Homo sapiens: one gene and its partner. The protein of the gene in region 1 interacts with the protein of each later gene in a pairwise test. Each region holds a gene or a part of one and is shown on either strand. Other genes may lie near its edges.

Region 1 (3,645 bases):
TCACTGTCACCTCTGCCTCCCGGGTTCAAAACGATTCTTCTGCCTCAGCCTCCCAAGTAGCTGGGACTACAGGCATGCGCCACCATGCCCGGCTAATTTTTGTATTTTTAGTAGAGACAGGGTTTCACCATATTGGCTAGGCTGGTCTTGAAGTCCTGACCTCAAGTGATCTACCTGCCTCAGCCTCCCAAAGCCCTGGAATTACAGGCGTGAGCCACCGCAAATGGCCCTATATATCTTTGTTTATAGTCTGTCTTCCTCCACTAGAAGAATATCAGCTCCCTGAGGGCAGGATTTGTGTCTGTTTTGGTCACTGCTATATCTCTAGTGCCTAAAAAGGCCTTGCACATAGCAAGTGCATGATGGATATCTGTTGAATGAAGGAAGGAATAAAATGAAGACATCATTGAGCTCCTGGATCCAGCTATGCCTGAAGCCAGTCTTGTGAAATGAGATAAGAAGATACACACCCACAATGTCTCTCCAGCCTACACCTCCATCTCCGAGACCAGGTCATGGCTGGTGGATTTCTTGCTGTCCACACTTTCGTCCTGGCCCTGGGACTCCCTCAGGGCCCAGTGACAGGCAGCTGGCAGTGACCGGCGGAGTTGAGCCCTCCCAAAATACAGGAAGAGCATGGGATTGAGGCAGCTGTGAGCGAGGGCAAGGCCCACGATGAGGGGTTCAGCCCGCAGGGCCCTGGCCAGGAGTGCGGAGTTCGGGGCCGCCACAGTGAGCACCAGCCCCAGCAGGTGGTAGGGTGCCCAGCAGACAAAAAACCCCACCACAATGGCTGTGCCCAGCGGCCGGCAGCGTCGGGCTGCCCAGCACAGGAGGGCACTGTGGCAGCTGGCCACGGCCACCAGGGGCCCCAGGAAGCCAAAAAGAAACCGGATGGCAGTCACCGCATTCTCGGTGCTGGAGGAGCCGCCGTAGTCCACCACACACTGCAGCCGGGCTGGGAAGTGCTCCTGGTGCAGCCGGCGGTAGATGGCGGAGGGCACGGTGAGCAGCAAGGCCAGTGTCCAGGCTGCCCCACAGGCCACCTGCACCCCGCACGCCCGCTGAACCGTAGACCACCAGGCAGGCCCGAGAGCCAGGAAGCAGAGGTCGGCACTGAGAGCTGCCAGGAGCAGGACGCTGGCATACATGGTCAGCAGGATGATGGAGGGCAGCGCCCGACAGCCCACTGCACCATACGGCCAGTGGCCTCCACGGGCAATGGGCACTGCCAGGATGGGCAGAGACAAACAGCACAGCAAATCCGCCACGGCCAGGTGGAGCAACCAGGTGGCACCCACCCTCCGGCGGGCCACCTTCCCAGCCACCCAGGCCACCATGGCATTGCCCGGCACCCCCACCAGGAAGATGGCGGCATACAGTGGGAGCGGGGCCACGCGCAGCGGGTCGATGGCCAGGCAGGCGCCATCCAGGCAGTCCACAGGGCGGTCCGAGAGGTCGCTGTAATCCCCATACTCGTAGCTGACAGAATCGTTCCCCATTCAGGCTCCTGGTGTCTGGGCAGGAGAGAAAGACGATGAAAACTCAGAGGAGGAAACTCCATGGCCCTGGAGATCTAGGGTGTCCATCAGCCCGGCCCACCAGCACCTTGCAAACTGGAATATTGCGTCATAAGGACTCCAGTGCTTTAGAATATTGGAATTCTAGGCCGGGTGTGGTGGCTCACACCTGTAATCTTAACACTTTGGGAGGCCAAGACAGGTGGATCACTTGAGGTCAGGAATTCAAGACAGGCCAACATGGTGAAACACCGTCTCTACTAAAAATACAAAAATTAGCTGGGTGTGGTGGCGGGCACCTGTAATCCCAGCTACTTGGGAGGCTGAGAATTTCTTGAACCCAGAAGGTGGAGGTGGCAGTGAGCTGAGCTCACACCACTGCACTCCAGCCTGGGAGACAGAGTGAGACTCCATCTCAAAAAAAAAAAAAAAAAATTGGAATTCTAGAACTTAGTGTTGTTAGAAGTGGCATCTTGGAATTCTAGAATATTACAATGCCAGAACCCTAGTACATTGGAATATTGGGGCTGGGCACGGTGGTTCAGGCCTGTAATCCCAACGATTTGAGAGGCCAAGGTGGGAAGATCACTTGAGGTCAGGAGTTCTAGACCAGCCTGGGCAACATAGGGAGACCCCATCTCTACGAAAATTTTTTAAAACATAGCCAGGCATGGTCATGCGTGCCTGTGATCCTAGCTGCCGAAAAGGCTGAAGTGGGAGAATCATTTGAGCCCAGGAGATTGAGTGAGCTTGATCATACCCCTGCACTCCAGCCAGGATGACAGAGAGAGACTCTGTCTCAAAAAATAAAAAAAAATAGGAAAAGAAAGAAAGAAATGAGCAAAATCCAAAATCCACAGTATTTTAGAAGATAATAAATACTATGGGAAAAATATCACACAGGGAAGCTGGCTATGTTGGAGTTGTACAGGCATGGTCAGGGAAGGCTTCTTGAGAAGGTGACATTTGCATAAAAATCTGAAGGAACAGTGGGAGAGATGCATCGAGATCTGGGGGAAGAGTGTTTCAGGCATCGAGAACAGCCAGTGCAAAGGCCCTGAGGTGGGAACATGACGGTCATGTCCAAGAACAGCAAGGAGCCCAGTGTGGCTGGAGTGGAATCTGCCAGAGGGAGAGGGTGAGAGGCAATAGCAGAGTCATCAGGGGCCGGGCACAGTGGCTCATGCCAGTAATCACGGGAATTTGGGAGGCCAAGGTGGGTGGATCACCTGAGGTCAGGAGTTTGAGACCAGCCTGGCCAACATGGTGAAACCCCATCTCTCCTAAAAACACAAAAATAACCTGGAGTGATGGTGGACGCCTGTAATCCCAGCTACTCAGGAGGCTGAGGCAGGAGGGATCACTTGAACCAGGGAGGCGGAGGTTGCTGTGAGCTGAGATCATGCCAGTGCACTCCAGCCTGGGCAACAGAGCAAGACTCCATCTCAAAAAAAGAAAAAAACAAAACAAAACAAAACAAATGAAAAACAGTTATCAGGGGCCACGGCATGTAGGGCCACGTGGGCAACGCAAGGACATCATCATTTATTCCAAATGAGACAGGTGCTATAGGAGGGTGCTGAGCAAGGAAGCGACATAATCTATCATAGCAATAATTTATTTTTTTTGAGACAGAGTTTTGCTCTGTTGCCCAGGCTGGAGTGTGGTGGCATGATCTCGGCTCACTGCAACCTCCGCCTCCTGGGTTCAAGCAATTCTCCTGCCTCAGCCTCCCAAGTAGCTGAGATTACAGGTACATGCCACCACACCTGGCTAATTTTTGTATTTTTAGTAGAGATGGGGTTTCACCATGTTAGCCAGGCTGGTGTCGAACTCCTGACCTCAGGTGATCCACCTGCCTCAGCCTCCCAAAGTGCTGGGATTACAGGCGTGAGCCACCATGTCGGGCCACAATAATATTATTACTATATTATTACTATTTTTTGAGACAGGGTCTGGCTCTGTAGCCCAGACTGGACTGCAGCGGCACTTTCCCAGCTCACTGCAGCCTCCATCTCCTGGGCTCAAGCAACCCTCCACCTCACCCTCCCAAGTAGCTAGGACTACAGGTGCACACCATCATGCCTGATTAATTATTATTATTATTATTATTATTATTATTATT
Region 2 (3,745 bases), on another chromosome or scaffold:
GCTGCCCACGCGGGAGCATGGCGCCGAGGGGTGGGCGGGCAGGCAGGCACTTAATGAGCAGCCTCCCCCAAGCCAGAGATGCTCACTCAGCCCAACACGCAGTCCCCAGATGCCTTCCTAAGGGTCCACGTAACGGTGGAGGCCCCGGGACAACAGCCATACTCACGCCACCCGCAGGAAGGGGTTGTAGAGGCGCTCCTCGCCCAGAGTCGACGGCACAGTGGGCACGTCATCCTCATCCCTCTTCTGGAGTGACCACAGGCCCCGGTCACCATTAGGCCTTGTCTGAGAGCCCCCCCCACCCCGAAGCCTGTTCCCTCCCCCCCCACCCTCTTGCCGCGGCGGGAAAGGGGCCGTGCCTTAGCCCAGGACAGCTTGGCTCTCACGTGGTCGTTGCAGGGCTCCACTTTCTGGGCAAACTCCAGGTTGCTAAGCGTGTGCTCGTGGCCGCAGAACACCTTCTGGAGGAAGAGCGCTCGGTGAGCGCGCACGCGGCCAGGAAGCGGGGAAAGTGCTTGCGCCGGGGGCCTGGCCTCCCCTGCCCGGTCTGCCCTCAGGTGGGCATTCACTCTGCACCCCTAGCACAGTGAGGGTGCGGAGCGTGGGGGCTGTGCCCACGGGAGAAGAGGGGAGGGCCCAGGCCCGCTCACCGTCTCGGGGGGCAGGGTACCCAGCTCGGCCAGGCTCTGGTACATCTGCTGGGCGCTGCCCTCCAGGCACGAGCCGCAGCCGGCCACCGACAGCGCGTCGCCTGGCGGGGGAGGGCGGGTCAGAGCAGATGGGGCGGGGCCGGCGGGAGGCGGGGTGGGCGCGCTCCGCGCTGCGGGTACCCGAGAACAGGGCGGGTGGGTCCGGGCAATCGTCCTCCCACAGGAAGTAGCTCATGTGGCCGGCGGTGTGGCCGGGCGTCAGGAGGCAACGCACGTGGATGGCCCCGAACTGCGGCGGAGGAGCAGGCGGACCTGTGAGGGCGGGTGGACCCGGGGCGCCCTCCCCGCCCCTCCCGGGAGCGCGCGCTCACCCGCAGCTCCTCGCCGTGCGCCAGCCTGCGCGTCAGCGAGAAGATGCGCTCGTCCGCGCCCAGCACCGCCAGCCCGGGACGAAGCCGCGCCAGCTCCGGGTTTCCCCGCGCGTGGTCCCTGCGGGCGGGCGGGCGGGGGCCGGGTTAGGTCGGGTTGGGACAAGGCGGCGTCCTCGTGCCTCCCCGCGCCCCGCCGGCGCTCACCAGTGATGGTGGGTGGTCAGCACAGCGGTCAGAGACACCCCCTCCCGGCCCACGATCTCCAGCAGCTGAAAGGGACGGGAGTGACGGTAACACAGACGGTCCCGGTGGCCCACTCCCTCCATATCGGGATCCGCCGCGCTCACTGCCCCAGGCCGGCCAGAGCCCCGGGGAGCGCCGGGGAGCGGGGACCCAGCGGGCGGTGACTGCGCCCAGCGCGTGCAGGGACCGCCAGGCAGCAGCGAAAGGGCGGAGGCCAGAGGTGCCGTAACTTCAGGGAGCCCCAAGATAAACAAGGAACCCCAGCCGCCAATGACTTCCGGAGAGCAGAGCACGTGGGGGCTCGCTCCTACCAGGGGGGTCGGGGAGGCTCTCGGGGGACACGGCCGGGTCCCTGCGGCCCGCGGCCTGCCCTCACCCTCTTGGGCACAGCCACGTCCACGGCCACCGCCTCGCGCGTGAGCTCCTCGATGACCAGGTACATGTAGTTGTCCTCGAGCACGGGGATGACCTTGACCTTCATGGTCACGGAGCTCGGCCACCGGTGCCTGCTCCAAAACAGGCCCCCCAGCCCACGGTGCCCCTTCAGGGCGGGGCCCGCTCTCCACACCCTAGGAAGGGCTGTGCGAAGCGGGCTCGGTCAACACGCTGGGGGCCAAAAGAGAAGCCCGGCTCCCCAGGAACTCCCCGGCACTCGCGTGGAATTCCACGCACCGGGCTCCAGCAGGAGCGGAACCCGGCCGGTCCCCAACCAGCCCCGGCTCCGCCCCCAGTCCGAGCCCCAGTCCCCAAAGGCCACGCCTTCCTCCCAGGCCCCGCCCCTCGGCCCCCCGCCCTGCCGCCGCAAGACCCCTGACCCGGGACAGCCGCGTTCCCCCGCCGCCCGCCTCACCGGCACGGCTGTGCTGAGGACCCGAAGGACAGACTGACGGAGGCGGGGCCTCGGCCGCCGGTCACGGGGTCCGGACTGAGCGCGGCGCTGGGCTCGGGAGCCGCCAACCGCCCCCCTCCGCGGACGCGCCCCGCCCCCGCCCCCGCCCGGCCCGGATCCTGCGCGCGATGAGACCACAAGGCCCGCCGGCGGTGCGCGTGCCCGGTGGGGCGCCACGCGCACGCTCCGACCCCGCCGCGCCCGGCGCTGGCACCTCCTCCAGGAAGCCCTCCCGACGCCCCGGCTGAGCCAGTCGTTTCCGAGTTCTCCGGCCCCTGATGGGGACGTCTGCGCCCCTCTTCTCAGGCCAGAGGTGCAGAGATATACTTCCCCCGTCCCGGGGCTCAGCCAGCACTGCTAGGTACACAGAAGGTGTCCAGCGAGTGTAGCTCAGGGCATCCTGCGGGCGGGCTGCCGCTCCGTTCCGCGTGCTCGTCCGCTGCGCCCAGGCTGGGCGCTTTCACGCACCTGGTTCCATCTGCACAGGGTATGTGCAGGGGGCGCTGGGCCGCATTCCCCAGATGGGGAAACGGAGGCATGGAGAGAGGAAGAGCTATCCTCCCTCCTCAGCAACCACCGGTCTGGCCGGCCCCTGTGGGCGGTGCCCTGGGAGTCACCTGGGACCAACAGAGGCCTTGGCAACGCACTTAGCAGTGCCAGTGGCAGCAGCAGCCATGGGGAAGCCGGGCGTGGAGGCAGCACCGGGCTCGGAGCTGGCCAGGGTTCCCTAGCCTATGGAGCACGCAGCCACCACAGGCCCCAGGCCTGGACCTCCCTCTCGGCGGGTGGAGAATGTGAGTCCTCTGGGACTTGCCGCTCCTGCCATGGGGTTGAAGTCTGCCCGTTCCCCCAAAGGCCAGGAGGGTGCAGGTTCCTGCACCCTGGGCCTAATTTCAGCCAGGAGAGGGACTTTTACAGCTCAGCCAGGCAGGGAGGCGGGACTGGTGACTGCATGGGAGTGGGGCCACAGCCCAGCCTGGGACCCACCTGGGGAATGGGTGGCGGTACCTCCCCAGGTTGTGCTACGAGCCAAGGACTGGCTGCCAGGAGCTCCTGGGGGCACCGCAGTGTGGGCCACCAGCTTGGAAGCAGAGGTCCCACCAGATCTAGCGCTCAATAAGGAGCAGCAGCTGCAGGTGGGTGTGGGGCCCCAGCGTGCTCGTGAGGAGGGAGGGTGCCAGCAGGGCCCACAGACGCCACCTCTCACCTGGCCACCCACAGATCTCCAAGGAGCTGGTCGACATTCAGATCACAACCCACCACCTACATGAGCAGCATGAGGCTGAAATCTTCCAGCTGAAGAGTGAGGTGAGCAGCCGTGTGAACCAGCCTCAGTGCATGGGGGACGGGGGGTGCAGGCCCAGGACACGTGCCCTGCATGGGCATGCACACGCACATGGCATCTGTGGGTCTCAGCCTGCCTCTGAGTGCTGCGCGCCCCTGAGCGTGCACCGGGTGAATGTTCACCTACCCCAGGTGGCCCGCGGGCAGGTGCACCTGCTCATGCCAGTTGTCCCACAGATCCTTCGGCTGGAGAGCCGGGTACTGGAGCTGGAGCTGCGAGGAGATGGCACCAGCCAGGGCTGTGCAGT

What was found. Proteins that work in one complex are often made in the same cells at the same time.
Region 2: the proteins of C5AR2 (region 1) and HAGHL interact in a two-hybrid assay, tested with the Homo sapiens proteins (one large-scale study listed by BioGRID and IntAct).

The regions. Positions count from the first base shown.
Region 1 is NC_000019.10:47,338,657-47,342,301, reverse strand, and holds part of C5AR2 (C5a anaphylatoxin chemotactic receptor 2), read right to left. Parts: intron 1,816-3,645; exon of another isoform or gene 1,690-1,815; intron 1,518-1,689; 5' UTR 1,503-1,517; coding exon 489-1,502; 3' UTR 1-488.
Region 2 is NC_000016.10:725,510-729,254, reverse strand, and holds the start of HAGHL (hydroxyacylglutathione hydrolase-like protein), read right to left. Parts: upstream 2,150-3,745; 5' UTR 1,746-2,149; coding exon 1,641-1,745; intron 1,291-1,640; coding exon 1,226-1,290; intron 1,140-1,225; coding exon 1,022-1,139; intron 940-1,021; coding exon 831-939; intron 752-830; coding exon 651-751; intron 462-650; coding exon 360-461; coding exon of another isoform or gene 247-359; coding exon 167-246; coding exon of another isoform or gene 87-166; exon of another isoform or gene 1-86. Other genes in the region: CCDC78 (coiled-coil domain-containing protein 78), read left to right, coding at 2,888-3,289, 3,375-3,745. UniProt on the Homo sapiens protein: Hydrolase acting on ester bonds.